2 separate regions of the Homo sapiens genome follow, and region 1 is linked to region 2. The links come from fine-mapping of genetic effects on gene expression. A gene starts in region 2. The other region holds a variant in brackets. All regions are shown on one strand. Distances are from middle to middle.

Evidence for each region.
Region 1: its variant is fine-mapped to the expression of CCKBR in thyroid (GTEx, PIP 0.96).

Annotation. Positions count from the first base shown.
Region 1 is chr11:6,286,570-6,299,358 of GRCh38, forward strand. No RefSeq gene overlaps it. Among named protein-coding and RNA genes, the nearest start is that of CAVIN3, 28 kb to the right of the region's middle. The variant C/T (reference allele first, on the strand shown) is at 6,251.
Region 2 is chr11:6,251,994-6,264,217 of GRCh38, forward strand. CCKBR (cholecystokinin B receptor) reads left to right here and starts at 7,845. Exons shown (of 5, transcript NM_176875.4): 1 at 7,845-8,086. The coding sequence starts at 7,936.

The DNA.
Region 1 (12,789 bases), 35 kb after region 2:
CTCAAAATTTCCTAGTCAATTTTGGCTTGACTGTGCTAAAACTTTTTGTCATCCATAAAAAAATTGTAGTCTCGTTTTGTTCCTCTTTAGAAGGTGGTTTACAATCAGCTATAGAGCTATACAGGGGCTCTTAAATGCAGGTTTTCTGGTAACTTCGGAGATTGTGACATCAGAATAGAGGAAAAAAACTTTCAGAGCTCTCACAGGGAGCTGAAATGTTCATGAATATCAAACAAAAGTTAACTGCATAGAGTAACTAAAGAAGTCTGAAGTATCTTCTAAACTTTTTGCTTAAAACGTTTTTTGCTTAAATCCTTTGTTTTGTTTTTCAGAGTCAAGAAAACTTTTTTTTGAGCTATTTACAGCTTTTAGCAATTGAGTAAAGTATACTCCTCCGAACAAAATTTGGAGCTTATTTGTTTCTCTCTACCTGATTTCTCCAGAATTTGGAAACTAGTTGTGAATATTCTTAAGTTATGGCAATATAGGTATTTGCATAAGTGCAATAAGAATGTTTTCTTTTGCAACAGGACACAATTGGAGAAATTGGTTATTTTACCAACACTTTGATTGGAATGGTGTGCTTTTCTTTAAGGAATCAAACTTGACTTGTAAAGCCAATAAAAGCCCCTTGGGCAATTGGCCTCAGACCTTGTCTACAAGGTCCCCATACAAGGTATGGATAACAGTCCCCATACAAGGTTTCTGACCTGTGGTAAGTAAAGAATGTCACTTTCTAACAGGTCCAGAAGCCCCAGGTTATCTTGCGACCCCAAGAGGAGAGGAATTTATTCAACTCATAGGTATTCGAGGGTACAAACCCATGAAAGGGCTCGGCTCTAAAAAAGTCTTATGTAAGATTCCTTCTAGGGAACAGAGTTCCATCAAAGCCTGTGCAAAAAGAGCTTATGAAAAAAATAATTATTTTTGCTGCACTTTATACAAGTAATCAGGCCAAGCAAAACAAAGCAAATTGGTCTTACCATAACTTATCTTTAGTAAAAATGGGACACTGGAGAGAGAAATTATGTTTCAAGAACTGTGGTACACTGTTTATTAAATTCTAGTCTCATCAGTTGTTTTTAAGTTTGTTTCTGCAATTTAGGCTAACGCTGCTTATTTCTGTGAACCAACCAGAAATCTCTGACTGCTGCTCAGAAGAAACAAAAGGGAAAGGTAATGTGAAAATCTGAATCAGTATTCTAATTCTGGGCATGTACTGGAATCATCTAGCAACCCTATATCAGCTTGGTTCCAATAGTTGCCCAATTCATATAAAGCCTTCTAATTTAGTTTACTTGAGATAGTTTTACTTATTTTGCTTTACTGTTGTGGAATATATTGCTGTTGTACTCTTTGTGTAGGAATGTAGGATAAGCTTACTGAACGTTTTCTTAAACTAAATACGTATTAATCTTCGAGATATCACCTTTTCTCGGAACTCAAAGTTATGATTGGCCCTTGCCATACCAATGCTTTCTGATTGAGTTCCTCTCTACCCTAAACACAAGAGGCTCTAATAGCTAGGCAGGAATATCATCACCCCTATTCAGGTGAAGCCGTTACAAAAGATGGATCGTCATCCCTCTGCAACCTTAGGATTAAGGGTTCTCCTATAAAAGGCAGAAGGGACATGTCAGAGGCATATGAACCAGAACAACTCCATCTTGAATAGGAGCTGGGTAAAATAAGGCTGAGACCTGCTAGGCTGCATTCCCAGACAGTTAAGTCATTCTAAGTCACAGGATGAGTTAGGAGGTTAGCGCAAAATACAAGTCATAAAGATGTTGCTGATAAAACAGGTTGCAGTAAAGAAGCTGGCTAAAACCCACCAAAAGCAAGATAGTGATGAGAGTGATCTCTGGTCATCCTCACTGCTACACTCCCACCAGCACCAATGACAGTTTACAAATGCCATGGCAACGTGAGGAAGTTACGCCATATGGTCTAAAAATGGGAGGCATGAATAATCCACCCCTTGTTTAGGATATCATCAAGAAATAACCATAAAAATGGGCAACCAGCAGCCCTCAGGGCTACTCTTGTCTATGGAGTAGCCATTCTTTTATTCTTCTACTTTCTTAATAAACTTGCTTTCACTTTACTCTGTGGACTCGCCCTGAATTATTTCTTGCGCAAGATCTAAGAACCCTCACTTGGGGTCTGAATCAGGACCCCTTTCCTTTAGCACTACGAATTCCAGCAAGTACAAAAGAAATACACACATAGAGCCATCATAGTGAAGATAAAGAAAACCAACGAAAAAGAGAAAAGCTTCAAAGCTGCTAGGGAAAAATATAAATTATGTTTAAAGAGAGGTATATAACATGTGAGAGGCATGTCTGAAGAATCTGATTCATTAGGTTTAGGGCAAAGCCCAGGAATCTGACTTTTTAACAAACATCCAAGTGACTCTTACCTTTGTGGAATATTGGGAATATGGTTAGGAGGTGAGGATTACAAAGTTGGTCACACCACTGATCAATTTGAGTGAAGAAATATTCCCCACTATAGGAAAGGAGAGGAGAAACTGCAGGCAAGGGGCTAGATCTGAGAAGATGTAACATGGTCCATCCCTAGATAGGTTCACTCACGTTTGGAAGGCACAGATGTGCAGGAAATAAAATTTTAAGGCAAGCCAACTATGATCTCCTTGAATGGGCAATAATGGGCAAAATAGAGGTTTTGACTGTGGGGGTCTGAGAAAGCTTTGTGGAGGAAGTACCTTCTGAGCTAGGCTGCTCTCTACAGCTCTAAAATTCTTCCCAGGTGAATATGAAAAGAGAGTCAAATTCCAAGAATGACAAGTAGTTTTGAGCAAAGGAAGAAAGGTACAAAATGCCAGAGCTGGTTTGAGTAAAAACAAAAAAATTGAGCTATTTCTTCCATACCCGAAGAGAAAATGCTATGCTAAGTGGATGGAGAGGTAGAAAAGGGCCAGGTGGAAATGACTGGACAGTTTGAAAATCTGTTGCAGAGGTCTGACTAAATTGTGGGAGAGAATGGGTAGGTGAGAAGAGAACGCGGACCCTGAAAAATCTACTGAGACCAGGAGCCCCTGAGATAGGCAAAGCCCAAGGTCAGTTCCTGCCTCAGGAGCCCCAATCCCCACACTTTCAAGGGTCACTTTCTGACTCCATAACTGACCAACAAATTCTGAGACTTTAGCTTCAAAATGCCAAAACCCTCTGCTAATTCATTCCAGTGGTAGGGACCCTGTAAGTCCCCTCCTGAAACTTTCAACACTTCTCTGCCTGCTCTAACCCCTGCCTACTCATCTAGCATCTTTCACTTGTTCAAAAGTCCTGTTTGTTCTGTGAAAGGAAAAAATAGAACGGGTGGCAGGTTTTCCCAGTGCAGTTCCCAGCTTGACTTTTCCCTTTGGCTTAGTGATTTGGGGGTCCCAAGATTTACTTTCCTTTTACCGTTCCTACATCAGGAATGATTTCTCTCTTTTCATTAGCAATTTCTTCTTTTCTCCTCCTCTTCATTTGACTAACTTATTATACTTCTTTGTCAGGTCTCTATTTAAAAATTTCTTACTCAAAAGAAGCCTTTCCTACTCCTTTAGTCTAAACTGTCCTCCACTCGTTACCTGTTACGCCCTTCTAATTTTTCGTCATAGCATGTACAAATATTTAAGATTACATGCTTATTTTTGTTGTGGCTCTCTCCTTTCACACAGTAAGCTCTGGGACCTATCTGTGTCCTTCACCACCCTTTACTCGGTACCTAGCCCAGAGCTCACTCTCACCATTAATATTTGTTTTAAAGAGAGAGGAAGGAGAGGATTGCGACCTTAATAACTCTTAGCCCACAGCCTTGGCATACCCCCTTCTCAGGACCCTCTGAATTCTCAAGAGCCTCTTGCCTTTCCTGTCTTCTTCTCTAGAGTGTGTGCCTGGGTTCAAATCCTGGTGTTAATATTCACTAGCTGTGTTACACTGGATAAGTGGTCTATACTGTTTAAATCTCGGTTTTCTGAGGTGATAGCAGTTACCTCATAGGGTTGTCAGGAGGATTATGAGAAAATCCATGTGAAACATCTAACAGAGTACCTGGAAAATTATTGATAAAAATTAGCTGCCATTGTTATTGTCATTAATAACTAGCAATCTCTAAGATTCAAGCTATTGGGTTTTTTTCCCACAAGAAAGTTCTCATTATATATATAAATCTGTGTATCTTTATATATATATATATATATATATATATATATATACACACACACACGTAATATACGTATGTATATATACTTACATATATAAAGAGTTCTTATAAATCAATAAGAAAATACAAGCACAATAGGAAAATGAGCAAACATTATAAACATGCAAATTCATAGAAATATGTTTAAAAATTGTAATGTTATTATCAGAGTAAAAAGGAGAGATGGAGTATAGTCTGACTCTCAGGTACTCCCATAACTTTCCTGCTATAGTTCCTCCCACTGGTGTTGGGGAAGAAGGAAAAGCAGAAAGACAGCATCCCCTTCCTTAGCCAGGTGACGCTGTGCTCCCGTCTCTGTGGGTGGTTACTGCTTCTCTGGCTAACACAGACTGGCGTGATGGCCTCTGTGAGGCAGGTGTCCAGATCCTGGCACTTCTGGAGCATATATGTAGTTATCTGGAGGTCACATATTTGTCTAATTCTTCTCATGCCCCCTTATAATACCCCCCACCAGAAATGTATTTGTAGGAATCCTCAGTGATGCCTCTGTATGCCTTCCATGAGATCCCTTGTATGCGCTCCCTCGTATGCAGTCTCAGTGAGATCTCAGCTCCATTCCTTGGAGTACTTCAACCACCCTGGGACACTGCTGTCACCACCACCAGGGTTTCACTACTCTAGAACTGTGAAGTTTTCCTCCAAATGCAGAGGGAACACCCCTCCTCCCCCCCAACTCTATACAACAGAGATTCTAAATAAGCAAGGTGGTATAGTTATTGTAAGAGAATTCCGCAATAGAATCCTCCAAGGAGATTTGGTGGCTGAAGAATCTAAAGGTCTTCCCCTGGAAGTGGTCCGAGAGCATGGCCCTGGGGAAAGCACTGGGGCTTACATTGCTCACTTCCACCTTCATTCCCCTCTTTTGTTTTTTAATCTTTCCCTCAATTTATTTCCTTCTTAAAAAGATGATTTAGCAGGGTGATCCCCTGGGAATTGTTAGAAATCAAGGCTCTCAAGCCCATCCCAGACCTTCTAAATCAGAACCTGTACTTTAACAACACCCCTAGATCATTCCCATACAAATTACAGTTTGAAAAGTACTGATACATAGGACAGAATTTTTGGATTCTCCCACCCCAGTTATTCACACTTAAGTTCATTTTTGGCCCCACAGCTCCATTCCCTGCCTTTGGCCTGTGGTCTTCACTGCCAGCAAGGACTCCTTGCCTAATTAGCTAGTCAGCCTACAGGGTCTACCGCAGTAGTGCTGCAGGGATTCCATTTAGGCAGCTTTACTTCTGTTCATTTTGAAGCAATGTTGGTATCATCTGCACCAGTAACTCCATAATACCCTCTTCTTCAGGTGTGTTTTAAGATATTTCAGCTGGGCGCAGTGGCTCATCCCTGTAATCCCAGAACTTTTGGGAGACCAAGGTGGGCAAATCACAAGGTCAGGAAATCAAGACCATCCTGGCCAACATGATAAAACCCAGTCTCTGCTAAAATACAAAAAATTAGCCAGGTGTGGTGGCGGGCACCTATAGTCCCAGCTACTCGGGAGGCTGAGGCAGGGGAATCGCTTGAACCCAGGAGGCGGAGGTTGCAGTGAGCCAAGATTGCACCACTGCACTCCAGCCTGATGACAGAACAAGACTCCATGTCAGAAAAAAAAAAAAAAGAGACTTCAATATATTATAAAGAAGGAATTGATTATAATGCACCTACTCGTTAGCAAATGCACACAAACATTCACTGTACTTAGAAATAAAGAGCACAGTTTACACTGAAATCATACATGCACATGGTCCTTAAAGATAATTCTTTCATCAGCTCATAACTTATATCAAAGATTGGTAAGGACAGTACCACTCTCAGCAGAGAGGCAGAAAAGGGCTCTAGCTGGTGTCTACCTGCCACTCTAAGGTGCAAAGCCTCTAGAATTCACTGAGAGGTTCTTTGGCATGCTTCCTAGGACATAAGTCTCAGAAAATACAAAGACCTGCCTTGTAAGGTTTTAGAATTCATTGTTTCCTCTGTCTAGTTTGCTTTCTCGATGGTTTTGACCAGCTGAATGAGCCAA[C/T]ATTGGGGTATTATTTTTCTCCTCTAAAAAGCCCTTATCTCCAGAACTTTCTGTCTGATTAACCCTGTGACATATTAAAAATTTGAAGCCAACGCCTGTAATCCCAGCACTTTGAGAGGCCAAGGTGGGCAGATCACCTGAGGTCAGGAGTTCAAGATTAGCCTGGCCAATATGATGAAACCTATCTCTACTAAAAATACAAAAGCTAGCCAGATGTGGCAGCACGCGCTTGTAATCCCAGCTACTCAGGAGGCTGAGATGAGAGAATTGCTTGAACCCAGGAGGCCGCTGTTGCAGTGAGCTAAGATTGCACCATTGCATTCCAGCCTGGGAGACAGAGTGAGACTCTGTCTCAAAAAAAAAAAAAAAAAAAAAAAAAAGAAGCCAATGTTAGAAAGCTCAAGTCAGAAAGTTATTTTCCGGCTTGATTGTTTTGTCCTTTGTAGTTGACAAATTTCTCAGAGACTGCAGGGTATTTTTCTGATTCAAATATCCTCAGGATAAAAGTTTCTCAAGTCCTGTTTAGTTACCGGAGAAGGATATTAGTTTGTTCACTAGAGGTTAGGAAAGAGACTGTCTTCTTTGGAGCAAACTTGTATAGTCATTATGTTAAAAGGGTAGTGCTATGGTTTGAGTGTGGCTCCCAAAAGCACATGATGGAAACTTAATCACCATTGTAATAGATTAAGGGGTGGAATCTTCAAGAGATGATTAGGCCATAAAAGTTCTTCTCTTATAAGTAGATTAATGTTTTTGTTGCAGGAGTGGGTTCCTTAGTTGGCCCTCATTTGCTCTCTCTCTCACCCTGTCTTTGCCCTTCCAACACGGGTTAACACAGCAAGAAGGCCCTCACCAGAAGCTGGCCCCTTGATCTTGGACTTTCCAGCCTCCCAAACTCTGAGCCGATAAATTTCTCTTCACTGTAATTTACCCAGTCTGTGGTATTCTGTTACAGCAGCACAAAAAAGACTAAAACAGATGGCATTTAATAGGATGCAATCATAAGGCAACTTTATTTTTTAACCTGCTCCCTCTGCTCAGGGGCTAGTTTCTTCCTTGCCCCTTAGTAAAACCTCAGGTAGGTGGGTTCCTGTAGCTTCTCCAGACACTCAGAAAAATTAAAAAGTACTCCAGTCATTTTTAGTCATAAAACAGTCTCATAATAGTCAAAACTCTGAACTTTAAGGCAAATTTTTCTTCTTTCTCTCCTTCCCCAGCCCAAGCCGATTCAGGCTGGAAGCTGAATATACTCAGAGGTTCATTCAGGAAGCCTGAACTCAAGAGAAGGAGGCAGGGGCAGGGGAAGGGGCAGGGGTGGGGGTGTGGGTAGGCATTGGCACAGCTAGCTTCTTTGTTTTCCAGCCTAATCCTTCTACTTCTCCTCCCCTACTTTCTCTGGGGTATGGATCTGACAGGGTTTGGGGTAGAGGTGGGAGAAGGAAAGAGCGAGAAAGGAGAAAAGGCCTCAGTTCAGGGGAACAGTAGTACTTGCTGGTAGTGTTCCATGATCTTTGCAGATGCTTACTATGGACTCCTCACACAGGACACTTATGTGGGGCCCTTACAGATGGCTCCACTGAACACATTGGTCTGTAACAGACCCTCCTGCTGGCCACTTACTCCATACGTTTCTGCGTTTGATTCTAACCCCCTGCTGCCTAGCACCCTTTAGGAGGAAGCCGACTTACTGAAGTGGGATCTCCTGGAAAACAATCTTCATGTTTATATTTTCCCTTCCCCTATCTGGTTCACAAGAAATACACGCTCCAGCCCTACTTTTAATCTTTGCCTTTGCCTTTAATATTCTCCAGCATGGGGCAAAGACCAGTCACTTTGGGCCTGTCAATTCTACAGACATCGTTTTCCAGCTTTTCCAGCTGATCTTTTAAAGCCCCATCTCACGAGACTTAGGGTGAGGAGGAGCTCACCACTTCCAACCTTCCACAAGGTAAGAAGGTGGAAGAAAAAAGTGCCACAGTGCCTCAACCTTTTTTTTCCAGAGTCTCTCTTCTGGAGTTCTTTTTTTTTTTTTTTTTTTTTTTTAAAGACAGAATCTCGCTCTGTTGCCCAGGCTGGAGTGCAGTGGCACGATCTCAGCTCATTGCAACCTCCATCTCCCAGGTTCAAGCAGTTCTCCTGCCTCAGCCTCCTGAGTAGCTGGGATTACAGGCGCCTGCCCTCACACCCAGCTAATTTTTGTATTTTATTTAGTAGAGCCAAGGTTTCACCATGTTGGCCAGGCTCATCTCAAACTCTTGACCTCTAGTAATTTGCCCGCCTAGGCCTCCCAAAGTGCTGGGATTACAAGCATGAGCCGCCGCACCCAGCCACTCCCTCAGTTCTTCAACCTCAAACCATGAGGGATTGAGGAATGGATACTGACCTGTAGCTCACAAAACCTTTGCTGGTCCTGCCTTGGTAGTCCAACACTCCACCTTGAAGTAGGGGGCTTGCCACCTTCTGTTATTTATTTTGCTTCTGGGCTGCAGCTGCATCTAAGACAGAGGGAACTCATTTTAATATCATGTCATACCTTCTAGAGCACCACATTGTGCCCTTAAAGTTTCATTTTAAAGCTCTCGGAGAAGGGAGCATCTCCACCTTTTCCGAGCACTATTTTAGACATGTGAATGATAGACTGCCTTCTTTTTTCTTTCTGTCCTCCTCATTAACAGTTTATTACAGTATTTTTTTTTTTTTTTTGAGACGGAGTCTTGCTCTGTCACCCAGGCTGGAGTGCAGTGGCGCGATCTCGGCTCACTGCAAGCTCCGCCTCCCGGGTTCACGCCATTCTCCTGCCTCAGCCTCCCCAGTAGCTGGGACTACAGGCGCCCCACACCACGCCTGGCTAATATTTTGTATTTTTAGTAGAGACGGGGTTTCACCGTGTTACCCAGGATGGTCTCGATCTCCTGACCTCGTGATCCGCCCGCCTCGGCCTCCCAAAGTGCTGGGATTACAGGCGTGAGCCACCGGGCCCGGCCTTACTGCAGTATTTTTGTGAGGATTTCTCTTTTCCTTTTTTTACATTGGGAAATAAAGTTGAGCAATTCACTATAACTCTGAGTCAGAAAAAAATTTTATTTAGGAGCTTCAGAAAAGTAGGAAGAGCCTGCTGTTTTTCTTGTTGAAACAGTTCAAGAAAATCCCTTTGGATTTGTGAGTGGGTTTTTGGTTTGTTTTACTTCGCTTCGCTTTGCTTTGCTTTTTACATTGGAAACTACAGTTAGGGAGATTTTAAACAAATTCAAGTTTTAAAAAATTATTTTTAGCTCTTCACATCTGGATTTCAAAAACATGGAAAGAGGGTTGATTTTTTTCTCCCCGTTGTGTGTGGCCTGACTGGTGATACTGTGAGTGCTACGAGAGGGTGCCTGTCCTGATTGGATGAAAGTCGTGGGCTAGTTGGGGTTGGAGAAGAGTTGTAAACAGAATCCTAGAGTCGTGTGCTGGGGCTCAGAAGTGAGTGGATTACAGGCAGGCCCAGTTAGGACCGTAGCTTTGTAACACTGAAAATGGCATCAGCATCCCAACCTTAAGGATTACCTTATGTAGAGTAGATTTTGAGCTTCAATAAAACCATGCATTGTCAATAGCCCACACTTCCTATTATCTGTTTCTGTTTCTATGGGAGCTCTTTTACAACTCTAAGCTGTAAATAACGGCAATGCAAAACACCATTCCCTCTTACCTCCCTACCCCACCCCACCCCCAAATAAAAACGAGTTTGGGCTCAATTTACACATGCATCTTTGCTATTTTTGTAATTTTAATTTTTCTCTTTACTAATTTTGTGTTTTGGTTTTGGTTCATTTGTAGGCAATAATCATTAGCAGCAGCAATGATTGAGAATTGGGTTTCATAGTCTGACCATTTGGTGATCTCTATAAATAGATGAATGACTTATAGAGACATATTCTCTTTTGTGTGAGAGAAAATGGAGAATCTGGATTATTAGTTCTTTTTGTTTGTCTATTTGTCTACTTTAAGCCCAAATGAATTAAGAATCCTGGGCTCACTGGGAAGGAGAACAAATCTTTCATACTGAGACTGGTGAGTTTTGGGGTTTCTTTATTACCCTTAACCCATGATGGAATTTTTAATTGAAGTATAAGATTTCTTTGTCTCTGTTTGTCTATGTGTCCATAATTTAGAAAGATCTTTACCTTTCACAGTGTAAGTATGTAAAATTTTCCTACCTCTAGATAATACTAATAAATTAGATTATCAATCTCTTTTTAAAGAGGCTCTTTTCTGATTGGCTGATAGAGATAAATAAGCACTTATATAAAAAGAATATTCTTAAAATTCCCAGAAAATAATGGATTTGAACTTCTAATACTTTAAATATGCTACATTTTAAAAATATCCTTATCTCCTTCTTTAATATGCTTCATTACAGACACAAAGACCTAGGGCCATTTCTTGGTACTCTTCTGTGTCCAGGTGACTGCAATACAGCTAAACAGCTTTTCTGATATGATAGCCTCTGCCCGTTTAGTTAGACAAGGTGCAATATGAATCAAGTCCATCTGTAGGAAACTATCTTCATACAGATGAAGGGTTCCTAGTCCAGTTCTAAATAAAAATTTCTTCCTGTCTCTGTAAAACATCTCAGACTGGATAGAACAGATCAAGTAGAGTAGTGATTTATGATACAGTGTGAAGATCCTATCTATTAAGCATGTGCCTGGTGTAAGGCCATAAGACTTGAAGAAACAATCTGAAGAAATTGTCTTCAGAGAATACTTCAAACGTTGCAAAATATCTTAACACCTTGCTGTGATCCACACAGAAGACCAACTGGCGTGACTTATTTATGAGATCTTTGCAAATGCAGTGAAGGCATTGGTCTCTTCCAAATTGAGAATGAGCATTACCACAATGACATGCATCCTTGGACATAACTAACATCAGGACTGTAACATAAATATGCTGCTACCATACTATGTAAAACATCATGAAATGGCCACTCTTCTAAAAGATGTAGGTAGAGAGATGGCAATGCATAGGATCTGTCCAGCTTAATTCCAGACCAGCACCAGGATCGCCAACAGGTACACCTTCTCTATCAGAGAGAATGATGTGTTCAGAGAGAACTTGTTTCACCAAAGTTTTTTCACCACTCCTTTCCTCTTGAGAGGACTAGTTCATAAAGGTCAGGAATGATAATCCATTCATTTCCTACAGTGAGACTACAAATTTGCCCAGGAACACTAGGGGGCAACCCCTGAACATAATTTACCTTTTCTCCTACTATGCCTTATTTTTCACTGGTCCAAATAACCACTGCAACTGGCAATATTTTCTTCCTGTTTAAATTACTGTTTTCTTTCTTTCCTTCTTTCTTTTTTCTGTCTTTCCTTCTTTCTTTTTTTCTTTCTTTCCTTCTCTCTCTTTCTTTTTTTTGACTGCTTTAATTTCTTGATTTTGAGACTGATTCACAGTCCCACATTCTTGTTGGTGACCTAAAGCTTCTTCTAATGATTTGACAAGATTTCCTTGGAGTGGGCAAAGATTTCTTAAGCAGAACATAAAAGCAGTAATCAATCATATGATGGCTCATACCTGGAAATCAGAGTACAGGTAAAAATGGTTCAGATTCGAAATTCTTATGTCTTGAAGCCTGACATGGTGGTTGACAGGTCCTTCTGTTTGTGCTTCATACTTTTGCTAAATTATTTTTGAAAGTTTTCTAAAGATAATCTCTGGGATAAACTTTGCCAAATAATTTGTAACCAGGAACACGAGGAACAACTGGTGAGCCTCTTTTGTCCTTTTTAGAAAAGATTTGAGACAAGCAGGGGCAGGTGGTGGTGGGCTCATCTCCAAACAGCTGTGAGAGTTAGCATTAAGGTAGTAAGCCCACCAACCTCACCCTACTTCATCCTCCCCAGTCCTCTCCGCCCAGGTGGCAGGGAGCACGCCCTCTGCTGACCAGCGCACCAGTGGCTCCAAGTACCCAGTCTTTGGCATCAGTGGCCACCAGGCTGCAGCTCTGTGAACAGCAGCTGCAGAGGAGCTTCCTGCCAGCCCAGGGAAGCCATAGCCTGTGCATGATCAGCCCCTTTTAGGAAACTAAGGTTGATTTGATGGAGCCAGTGCTGGCAAATCTGTCCAAGGAAAACCGTCCTGGTACCTGGATTTATCCAGGATCCAGCCTTGGAGGTGGTAAGGGAGGTCACTTTCGTGGCAGGCCAAGAGCCTTGAGAGGTTTTGAAAAATTCAAGAAGAGGCTGGTCACGGTGGCTCATGCCTATAATTCCAGTACTTTGGGTGGCTGAAACGAGTGGATCACCTGAGGTCAGGAGTTCGAGACGAGCCTGGCCAACATGGCAAAGGAAGGAAGGAAGGAAGATTCAAGAAGAAAGGAATTAGGCCAAAATGTATAGATACTACAGATGAAATCTTATGGAGAAATTTCCTTGGACTTACCATCTTAGCTTCAAGACAGCAAATGAATAGAAGCTTGTAAAAGATCAAGCTGAGATTTCTTAGAGAACCTCTAGCGGAAAAAACTTAAAGAAGGCCCATATGGT
Region 2 (12,224 bases):
TTCTTTCGTCTGCTCAATAGCCCTGCCTGCTCTGGCTCTAGCCCATCTGCCTTCTCAGCTGGCTTCCTCTGTTTAATCATCCCAAGAGAAGGGCCTCCTGTTTGGGCAGGGAATGTGTGGGCAGGAGCTCAGCACAGAAGCAAGTCTGCATGTCATAGAAATGCAGAGAACAGAAGGCCTTGAAAGATATAAGGAGAAGGTGGCCTAATCAGACACAGAGGGCGGGGCTGAGCCAATGGGGAAAAGGGCAAGCTGGGCACCCCAAGGACTAAACTGTAGCTGATTTCTCTCCTAGCGCCAGACCTCAGCTGCACGTGTGTGCGTCAGAACCAGGAGTGCTGGAGGCAGAGCGTATTACATGACCCTCACACTACTGGGAATGTAAACACTGGGTTTCCTGGTTAAAGCACTGATATTTTGTGGACCTTGCAAGCTACCTAGAATAAGCAGTCCCTTATAAAGCAGCTTATCTGGCACTGTGCATGAGGCAGTAGGTTCTGCTCTCTGCGGTTGTTTCCCATGAATATTTACTGAAGTTTTATTTCAATGTTCCCCTCTTATCTCAGTTGTGATATAGAGTATTGAAAGAAGGATCGTGTGCCCACATTTGGGCCAATGGGGCAGTACCATGGGAGATTGAGACTTCCCAAAAGGGAAAGTAAATTGTTCTAGCTACAAGAGTCAAGCTAGGTGGTCCAAAATCCCCCTCTAAAAAACCAAAACCAAAACTAAAACCAAATAACAAACAACCTTGGCAGGTCAAAGCTTGAGTTAGAAAGACAGATTCCCTCAGGACTGAGCCCAGGCCTACTTCAGGACCTCTTGCATGTGCTTCCTTGACCTCTTAGTTTTCTGACTTGTTCCTGGACAAGGGTCCAAGTCTCTTTCATATGCCTTTGCCCACATTGGCTTTGCAATTCCTTCCTTACTCCGATCTAAAGCATCCCTATTTTCTTGCCCTGAGATATCCCATTCTCTCCAAAATGCTGGCTTATGTCTAGCAAAGGAAGTATAGATGGAATTTCATGATTTCGAGAAATGAGTTATACCCTTTTAGCACTACATTTTCATTCCTTTCCCCTCCATCCTCTGCTCCCCCTCCCTTCTTCACTATAGCTATTACTTGTTTTTTATTTTCCCTTTTACAAAACATCTTGAAATCAATCTACACATGCCATCTCCTAGCCCTCACCTTCCATAACCCATCTGCATTTAGTTAGAGGGGAGAATATGGGCAAGATACAAAGATGATGAAAACTTGGCATCCACAAGGAAAATATAAGATATTTGAGGCTCCTGAAGCCAAGTGTGACCATCCAGCTAGAGCCAGTGTTTGGGTGTGAGAGTAAACAAAAGATAGAAAGTAAGTAATGACAGTAGTGTGACGAGAAGTCTGAGAAACTATTGGAGAGAGGGACATGTATTAGTCAGCTCAGGCTGCCACAGCAAGACACCACAGACTGGATGACTTAAACAACAGAAATTTATTTTCTCACAGTTCTAGAGCCTAGAAGACCCAGATCAAGGTACCAACACATTCAGTTTCTGGTGAGGGCTCTCTTCTTGGCCTGCAGAAAGCATCCTCACATGGTCTTTCCCCTGTGTGTGGCTTGCAGGGGGAAGAGGTGGCAGGGGATGAGGGAAATGGTGGATCACAAGATATCTGGTGCCTCTTCCCCATCTTGTAATGACAACAGTTCTAGCCCCACCCTTATAACTTTATTTAACTTTAATTACTTCTTTAAAGGCCCTATCTCCAAATACAATAACAAGGGCAGGAGCCAGACCCTTGGAATATAATTCTCTCTTCTCCATGTCCAGCTGAGATTTTATGGCCCGTTTTTTCACACTTGTCCCTTTATTTTGCCATTCCATTCATCTGGTAAAATTCCAACTTTGGATGAACCAAACCATCAACATTCTCCTTGCTTGCATCCAACCAGCTGAGCTCTGCTGAGAAATTGATCCCACTAGAAATTTGTAGTCATCACCCCTTAAGTGGGCCCTCAGTATTTTCCTATTATTTCACTACATTCCTCAGGTCTCCTTTTCCCTTCTCCCATTATATATTGTTTTCTTAAACCATCTTGACTACTAAAAATTTTCATCACACGCACACACACAAACACACACACACCACTCTCTGATAACCAGATCTCCAACTCCATAGCAAAAATAAAAACTATCAGACAGCAGCTCCCTACCAAATCTACAAACAACTGTCTCAGTTAAGATGCAGGTTAGGTTGCCCTGACAATAGAGGAAAAAAACTGTAACGAGTTAAGACTGCAGTTTCTTTTTCATGCAGAAGAATCAGGGATGATAAAATGGTTTGAGAGTATAGGAGACCCAGACTCCTTCCATTTTGTCACTCTGCCATCCCTAATATGTTACCCTCACTGCATGATTGAAGGTGGCTTGCTTTCCTATTTACATTCCTATTGCCCTCCCATAGGGGCAAAGAGGAAGAGAAGGTCCATTTCTCTCCTTTAAGACCTTGATGTGGAAGCTGCACATATCACTTCTACCTACAGACACTACCTAGTCATAGTGTGCATTTTTTGCACTTAGCTGCAAAAAGGTCTAGGAAATGTAGCGGTTAATTTGTAGGCCATAACTTATTTTCATCTATAATCATCTTTTTCTACTAATTTCCTCTCACAATTGAGTCTCTACTGCAATCAAAAGCTAGGATCCTCCACTTCCGCTCTGGATTGCATACATCCCTGACTTCTCAGGAACCTTGCATTATTAATTAGCCATTCTCCTGTATCTTTAGTCTTTTTATATATTGGAGTAATTCCATCTGCCAAAAAAATGAAAAAAAGAGAAAGAAAGAAAGGAAGAAAGAGAGAAAGAAAGAAAAGAAAGTTCAAGTCCACCCATCTTAAAAAAAAAAATCTTTCATTTGACATCCTCTTGCAGCTCTATCCCCTTTCCTTAGTAACTACATTTCTTAAAAACTTGTCTGAAGTCATTTACTCCACTTCTTCCCACCATATTCAGTTTTCAGGACATCTACCCTGCCTTCTGCCTCAACAACCTCACTAAAATGGCTCTTTCTAAGGTTGCCAAAGATCTCCAGGTTACTAATTTTGGACCACATTTCTCATTCCTCATTTTGCTTACCCAGGAGCAGCATTTGAATGAGTTCACCAGTTTCTTCTTGCACCTCTTCTCTTTTAGCTTTTATGATGCTTCACTCTCTGGGTTTCCTCCTGTCCCTCTGTCTACTCTTTCTTGGTGTCTTTTGCAGGCTCATCTTTCTCTATCCAGTCTTTAATAATGACCTCTAAAAGTCTGACTTGATCCTTCATTTGTTCTTATTCTACACACTCTAATTCTGTGGTTTGCATTACTTCCTATATGATCTGTATATTTAGCTTCCTAATGGAATTCTACTTAGGTATCTAATAGACATCTGAAACTTAATATGTCCAAAACAGAACAGATTTGATGGTGGGAGTTTCTCTGTGCTAGTTACTATTTTCTCTATGAAGTTGGAGTCTAGGTTGAGAGTGAAGAATGCTCTGTGTCTCTGTGTGTGTGTGTGTGTGTGTGTGTGTGTGTGTCAGGGTGGGAGAAGAAATTAGAGATTTTATGAGACGAGAAAATTTAAAAACAATATTGTGTAAAATGAGAGAAAGAAGGTAATCAGGGAAATTTGGTAAGACATCTACTCATTCTAAGCAGCACAGTATGAACAACTGAATTCTGATTTCCAAAATCCCTGACTTTGACTTCTGGCTCTTTCACCTAGTAGCTTTGTGGCTTTGGGCAAGTTACTTAAACTCTCTCTAAGCCATAGTTTTTTCATCTAAAATAGTGATCAACAATATTGGACCTAAATTCATGGTTCTTCATGAAGATTAAATGTACTTACAGGTAATGTGCCTTGAACATCATAGGTGATCATCAAATAGTTTATATTGAGTTACCAGAAACCTTATTCATTTTTTATCTCATCCTTCTTTCTCACCCTCCACATGCAAATTATCTTTAAATTCTGTTTCTACCTCCTAGATAGGTCTTAGATCAATCTTTTCCACTACGTCCATGACTTTAGGTCAAGCCACTACCATCTCTCACCCAAATTACTGTCATAGACTCCCAATTGGTCCCACCTTTTAAGTTGCTCCCCACACTAACTCCACTGCAATCTTTCCAAATCTTTCTAAATCTTAACAAATTTCCAATGCTCCCAATTCTTCCTTGCATGGCTTGCAAGAGTCTGCATTTGCTGCCTCATGAGATAGAAGGTGTATGATTTGTCTGTTGCTGTTGTAATAAATTACCATGAATGTAGTGGCTAAAAACAACACCCATTTATTAGCTCACAGATCTATTGGCCAGAGGTCTACACAGTGTGGCTGGGTTCTCTGCTCAGGGTATCAGAAATCAAGGTTTCAGCCAGACTGAATTCTCTTCTACAGACTCGGGGGAGGACTGAAGTCTCTGTTCTTTTGCTGGCTGTCAGCTAGAGACTGCTGTCAACTAGAGGCCACTCTCAGGGCTTGTCCTGTGCCCTCCTTCACCCTCGAGCCAGAAAACAGCCACCATTCGTTCCTTGCCACATTATCCCCTCCATCTTCAAGCTATCAACAGTGTGTTGAATTCTTCTCATTCTTCCAATCTCTTTGATTTCCTCTTCTGCTACCAGCAAGAAAAAAAGAACCCTTGGCTTTTAAAGAACTCATGTGACTTGGTTAGGACTAGCCAGATAATCTGTCTATCTTGAGATCAACTGATTAGTAGAATTAACTCCATCTGCAAAATCCCTTTTGCCATATAACATAATTGTGGGAGTAGTATCTCATCATATGCACAGGTCCATCCACACACAAAAGAAGATTATATAAGGGTGACAGTCATTGGTGGTCATCTTCTAATTCTGCCTACCCAAGGAGAGGAAGCCAGGGGAAATATCCCTGAAGAATCGTAGCTTGAGCTGAGATCAGATGGATGAGTAAGTGTTAACTAGGTAAGGAAGGAAAGAAGAAGCTTCCAGAGAGCATATGGAAAAGTCATGCAACTGAAGGACATATAGCAAAAAAAAAAAAAAAAAAAAAGAAAAGAAAAAAGAAAAATAAAAGAGAAAAAAGAAGGAGTGACCAAAAAAAGGCTAATGTGTTTACAGTGGAGAGAATAAGAATCATTGTGACTCTTATTTGAAATAATGTGATTTGAAATAATGTGGCTAGAGAGGTAAGTGGGAGCCAGGCCTCACAGGCTTTCTAAATTCTGTTAATATGTTTTCTCATTCCCAAAAGCAAAGGTCAAAAGAGTGGGATAGTCAGATTTGTATTCTGAGCATAGTACTTCGGCTTTAAGGTGAAGTATAGATGTAGAGAGGCATCAGTAAAATGTGGTGGCCCATTTAGGAGGTTAGGAGTGTGGTTCAAGAGTAGGGTAATATCAGTGGACATATAAGCAGGCAGATTCAAGGAACACTCAGTAGCTAAAATGAACAGGACTTTGTGATTGATTCAATATGGGAGTGATGTAGTTATGTTCCCCAGGAAGCAGACTCTCAAACAAAGATTACTGTGGAGGATGTTTACTAAGGAGCGTTCTTGGAGTTAACACCTGTGCAAGAGAGAGGATGAAAATAGGATTGGGCAAAAGGAGAAGCTGAGTAGTAATTCAGTCCCAGCAAAGACCTCAGTCAACCATATGAAGGGTTCTAGGGGTGTGAGCATCTTTCAGAGTTGTCCACCACTGGGTTGAGGGGATTAAACTTTTATACCTCTGTGCTGATCGGTCATTGGATATAGAATGCCCAAGAAAGGGAGCATAACCTTGGATGAGCTGGCTTTCTTCTGCTTAGGCAACTCCTGAAGGGTTATGACAGCTGAGGGCCATCTTTTAGGAGCACTCTCCACAGCTGGAAAATAAATCCTCCATTTTTGAAGAGGGTTCTGGGCTTTGCATCACAGCATCCAGCGCAGGGGTGAAGGAGCATAGGGGAGTAAGGCATCAATAATAATTCCTAAATTTCTGATTTGTACATCCTGGTGGGTGCACTTAACGACCATATATTACAATCATTGGCTTGCTTGGGAAAATCCCACTAGAGTAGGTGCTACTGAGGGGCAAACTATATTGGACAACTAGTGCATACCCCTAGAACTGGCATAGTTTGCTAAATAAGTGAATGTCCATCTATTTCTATTTTCACTCCCCTCTCCCTTACATCCTTTGCTCCCTTCCCTCCTCATCGTACTGTCATCCAATGTGGGAAAACTTGAGCAGGTTATCTGAGGCCCCACCTGTGCTGGAGCGGAACAAATAGCAAATCAAGCTCCTCTGGTCCAGGCTCTCTGATGGGCAAGACAGGCAGTACCAGGAGGAAGGAAAGGGGGAGCAGTTGATGACATCTCAGGCATAAACTGTCTTTCAACTCTCTTTCAATGCTTCAGCCCCTATAAACTCAGGGCTGGCTGAACCAGGTCCTCTCCAAAAGATTAATTGGATAAGGGCCTGCTGAATCCCCCATAAAGCCAGACTCCATTCTCTAATTTGCTCTTCCACTGATGCCCGCCCCCAACCTCTTACAGCTACTGCTGGGGGTCAGAAGAATTTCACATCGTATTGGAGTTCATCCGGAATCTGAAGAATGGATAGGAATCTGGAGATAGGAATCTGGAGATAGGAATCTGGGGAAGAAAAGGAATGGATAGGAGAATGCATAGGGAGCAGGGCTGAAATAGTAGAAGAGGCAAATCCTGCCCCGAGAAGCTGAACCCAGTTCAGTCCTGCACCCTTCAGCCCTGTTCCCGCTGCACCGCAGTGACCCAGTCCCCTTCTAGCCCCCTCTCGTGGGAACCTGACACCCTACACAGGCAGCTCTGCCTGCACTGAGAGCAAACAGGGAGCGTTAGCGTGTCGGGTGGGCGTGGGCGCTGCCTGGAGACGGTGGAGAAAGCCAACCTTCTCCTTCTCTTTTGCCTGCGCTGGGCCGGCGTTAGAATTATATCCCATCCTCACCTTACTCTGGTTTATCCTTGTCAGTGCTTGCCACCACCCCCAACTGCCCTCAACACTCAAGTCAGAAGCTTCCTCCCGGGAGCCCTTTTCCCTGGCAAGGCTTCCCTGGAGCCAAATCTCGGCCCCGGCCCCACCCCCACTCCCGCCCAGCTGTGGAGGGCTCCTTGGGACCCTTAAGTGCAAGCCTGAGTGTTAAGCCTCAGACAGGAGATGGAGGGTGCGGAGACAGATGCAGGAGCTACCCCAGGCCCGCAGCGAGGAGCTGCAGGGAACTACGGTAGCAATAGTGTCACGGTCACTGCGGCCACTGCAACACAGTACGGTAAATGCGGCTCTAGGCTCAGACTAAAGCATCCGCGCCTCAGCAGGTGACGCACGCAGACCTGGTCTCCAACGCCACCTCCACGTTCCCTGATACACCAGAGAAAGATGCTGGATCCGTGGCAGCCGTCTCTACCCAACCCCTCCTACCCTCCCTTCCCCGAAACCTCCCCCTACGCTGCCAATACTCTTGTCTTCAATCTCTCTCTCTCTCTCTCTCTCTCTCTCTCTCTCTCTCTCTCTCTCTCATTCCTGGGAATCGGGGGTGGGGGCGGGTGATAAAGAGAGGTGGGCAGGAGAGAAATCTCTAAGAGGAGACGGGACACATCTAGGGAGGGGGCGAGCCTGGAGGACAGTCGCACAGGGAGGGGCAGAACTCCCGAGCCAGGGAGGGGGTGCACAGTCACCTGGCGGGACAGAGGCTGGCGGAGGGACGGGAACCCAGGCGGGGCGAGCCGCGGGAGAGTGGAGGGCAGGCGCCTGGGCTGGGGGCGGGGACCAGGCGGGGCAGGGGGCAGGGAGAGGAGGGCGGCGGGAGCCTGAGCCGGAATCGCAGCGTGAGCAGGTGGAGCCGCGTTGGGAGCCCGCCGGGTCGAGCTGAGTAAGGCGGCGGGCTCGGCGGGGGCCATGGAGCTGCTAAAGCTGAACCGGAGCGTGCAGGGAACCGGACCCGGGCCGGGGGCTTCCCTGTGCCGCCCGGGGGCGCCTCTCCTCAACAGCAGCAGTGTGGGCAACCTCAGCTGCGAGCCCCCTCGCATTCGCGGAGCCGGGACACGAGGTGGGTGCCTCCCTCAGCCCCCCCCACAAGCTATTTCTCACTGTACCCCAGAACACTAATAGAGTCCCCCCAACGAGCTCCACACTACCTTCTCAAACGTCCACACCGTGCCTCTCATAGTACTCCCTCAGCCCCCAAACAGCTCCCCTCACACCTTCACCCCCACAGCCTACAACTTCATCACAGCTTCACACCACCTGGTCGGAACTCCTTCACATCCTGGTCCCCTGAATACACCTAGAGCCCCTGCTCACCCCAAAGCACAGCCCCTTCCCCAACACGCAGCCCCTCCTAGACACCAGTCAGAAGGCGAGGACCTCCTCTTGCCAACCCTGCAGATCTCCTTTTCCCTCTTACATCCAGTTCACAGAGCCACAACAGAGAAGGGAAGGAAGAAAGGAAGGCAGGACTGGGAAAAGAAGGGGGCTGGTTGAGGGAGGGAGCACTCTGGAAAGCTTGAATGCGAAGCTGAAGTTGTGATCACATCTGACACCCCAGCCCCCAGCCATCCCAAAAAAGATCCTCAAATCTGAATTAGGCTGGACACTAGGGGATGCTCCTTAGAGCTGCCTGCCTCCATTTCACTCCTTCTCAAACCCCTCTGCCTCCCTAGTTGGAGCTTTCGAGGCTCTGTGCCCTCTCTCTTTGTCTGCAAGTAATGTCTCCAGCTATCTTCCAAGCTCTCTCTCCAGCCCTAGGCTAGGTGCTGGGGGCACAGGGCAAACTAGACCCAGTCTGGACCCTCATGGCCCATAGCCAAGTGCAGAGAGAAACCAAGCAAATGGAAAAATCACAGACACAATGGAAGTCCCATGAAAGGGTCTAAACTGTGGGCACCAAAAGAACTTCACAGAGGCTAGAACCTTAGAGCTGGGTCTTGAAGTTGAGTAGGCAGAAAAGGAAGGAGTGGGATTCTAGGTGAAGGAGCAATGTTAAGCAGAAGGAAATTTTTCTAAACTCAAAAAGGGAAAGTTGGAATAAATTGTAATCCAAGTATTTATTTACCCCACGAAATAATCTATGCTTTCTCAGCCGAGTTGTTACACACTCACACTTGGATTCTGTCATTCAGCCAATATTTATTGAACCAGAGATTGTGCTAGGCAGTGGGAATGTAAGTTGAACAAAACCGACACAATTCCTACTTCACAGAGCTCAAAGTTTAATGGGCGAGACAGAAAAGCAGGGGATTGCAGCACAAAGTGGAAGAGCCTTGACAGGGAAAAGATAGTGGGAACACAAGTGGAACACCTCTAGCCCAGCCCAGCCTCCTTGAGAATTAAAGTTGGCCTCTTGAGGAAATGAGCTACAAAGTCAAAAAAATTAGGGAGGCTGGCTCTAAGCTTCCTGTTGGCAAAAAAAAAAAAAAAAAAAAATATATATACACACACACACACACACACACACACACACACACACATATACATATGGGAGAGCCAGCCAAGTGAACGGGCAGAAGAGGCAGAAAGCATCCCAAATAAAAGGACAAGATGTATAAGAAGCTCAAAGTTTGAATTCATGGCACTTTTATCCACTGTGACATAGTTTTGAGTGACTAGAACATATATCTTAAGAAGGGAATAATGAACAGGCTGGAGACCAGCCTAGAGGGTTTGCAGAGAGCCTGCTAGGCCTGACCATGGAACATGGACTTTCTCCCGAGGGCAATAGGAACTACTAAAAGATTCGGTAGTACTACCAGGATTAGTTCTATAATGTGGAGAACGGATTGGAAGACATAAGATGGAAGGCAGGGGGATACTTTACAAGGTTACTATATTACACTGTTCTGGGTGAAAGATGATGCTAGCTGAGACTAAGGTAATGGCAAGGGAGATGGAGAGAGGTGGATAGATTTGAGAGCCTCTTCTGGAAATGGAATCAACAGATTAGAAGCAGAGAGGATGGAAGAGGTCAAGGGATGACATTCAGATTTCTAACTTGGACAACTGAATGGATATTGGTGCTATAGCAATTGTATACAATGAGAAAGATAACAAAACAGCAGAAACAGGTTTGGAAGAGGGAATTATAAATTCAGTTTGGAACCCATTGAGTTTAAATGTTAGTGGGGCATCCAGGTGAGGTTACCTAGTAAGCTGTTGAATCCAGGGGTCTGGAACTTACAGGAGAGGTCTGAGGTGGAAATACAGACTTGAAGAAGGTCTTTGCCTACAGGATGTAGAAGCCCCGAGAATAGTTAAAATCATAAAATTTTGTATAGAATGAGAAGAAAATAGGTCCTAGGTCAAGACTCTGCATAAGACCATTATTTAAAAGCCAGGCAGAGAAAGGAGAATTTATGAAGGAGATTCAGATGAAACCATCAGAAAGGCAGGAGCTACGCCCTTCCAGAAAGCAAGAAAAAGAGAGTTTCAAGCAGGTTGGGGTAAGTGATATCAAATGCTATTGACATAAGTTACATAAATAAAAAACAGGACAGTCAGAACAGCATCCTTCACATTCAATAACAAGAAAATATTTAGGAGTTGTAGGTATTGAGGCTTGACTATGGTAGGTTAAAGATTGGACTGGTGAGAGAAGGAGTTATGAGAAGTGAACCAAGGTATGTAGCCAAAACTTTCAAGAAGTCTGGTAGGCAAAGAAAGAGAGAGAGAGAGAGAGAGAGAGAGAGAGAGAGAGAGAAAGAAAAGCAGGATATTGCCAAAAATAGCATGAGATTGAGGAAGGGGGGAGTGGGTATGTGCATAGGTTTGTTACGTGTGTGCGCGTGTGTGTGCACGCATTTTAAAACAAGAGCTTTTTAAAATGTTTGTTGGTGATTGGGCCGAGAGAGGAAGATTGAAGGTGCAGATAAGAAAGGGGATAGTCAATAGAGAAGATTCCCTGTGAAAGCGGGATGTGACGCAATTCAGAGCACAGGTGCAAAAATTTGCCTCACTTATCTAAATGCTCCTCACACATTTGGATGTTACCCAGCCAGTCAGATGTTACACACAGAGACCCTGTCAGCCACACTCATTCAGATATTATCCCTGCAGATGCATAGGTTACCCAGGTTCACTCCAATGTTACCAATAGGAATTTGGATGTTACCACTTTATTCTCCTTATATAATCCATGCAGACTTGAGTATTACCCATGTTCACTCAGATAGTACCCACAGAAAGACAAATGTTACCACACTCACTTTAATATTGTCCGAAGTCATTTTGGTGTTACCCATCCATCAAACACTACTCACTTTCATTTTATTATTATCCACACACAACCAGATATTACCTATGCTCACTTAAGTAAGCTTTTCCCAGATACTACCCATAAAATTACAAATATTACTCTCACATACTCAGATAATACCCACAAAAGCTTAAATATTACTTACATTCACTCAGGTGCTCAGTTATTTCATTTACTCAGATTAACATCTTTTTTTTTTTTTTTTTTTTGAGGCAGTCTCCCTCTGTTGCCCAGGCTGGGGTGCAGTAGCATGATCATGGCTCATTGCAGTCTTGACCTCCGCAGGCTCAAGTGATCCTCCCACCTCAACCCCCTAAATAGCTGGGACTACAGGCATGTGCCACCACAAGTGGCTAATTTTTTGTATTTTTTGTAGAGATAGGGTTTTTCCATGTTGCCCAGGCTGGTCTCTAAATCCTTGGCTTAAGAGATCTGCCCACCTCAGCCTTCCAAAGTGCTGGGATTACAGATATAAGCCACCATGTCTGGCCCAGATTAACATCTTAATTTAGTTAACATGTTAACATCTAACATCTGTACTCAAATACTACCCATACATACTTGGATATTACTTCTGCTCAGTCAGCAATTTCTATCATTATTTGGATATTCCACTACTCACAAGTAGACCTCTGAATGTAATCTATGCTTCCTGAAGATGTTACCTACAAAATGTTATCTACAGAGAGTTGGATATTAACCCTTGCTCTTTCAAATGTTACTACAGTGACTCAGATATTATCTAAACTTAAATGTAAGCCATATTCAATCGGATATTACCTATAAGCATGTAGATGTTACCATTCTCCAGATATGTCCCACAGAAATAAGCGTGACTTTCACCTACCCATATACTATTTCAAAGATTAAAGTATGCCCAACACTCACTCTGATATTACCTACACACCCTTGCATATTACTTCTGCTCCCTCAGTAC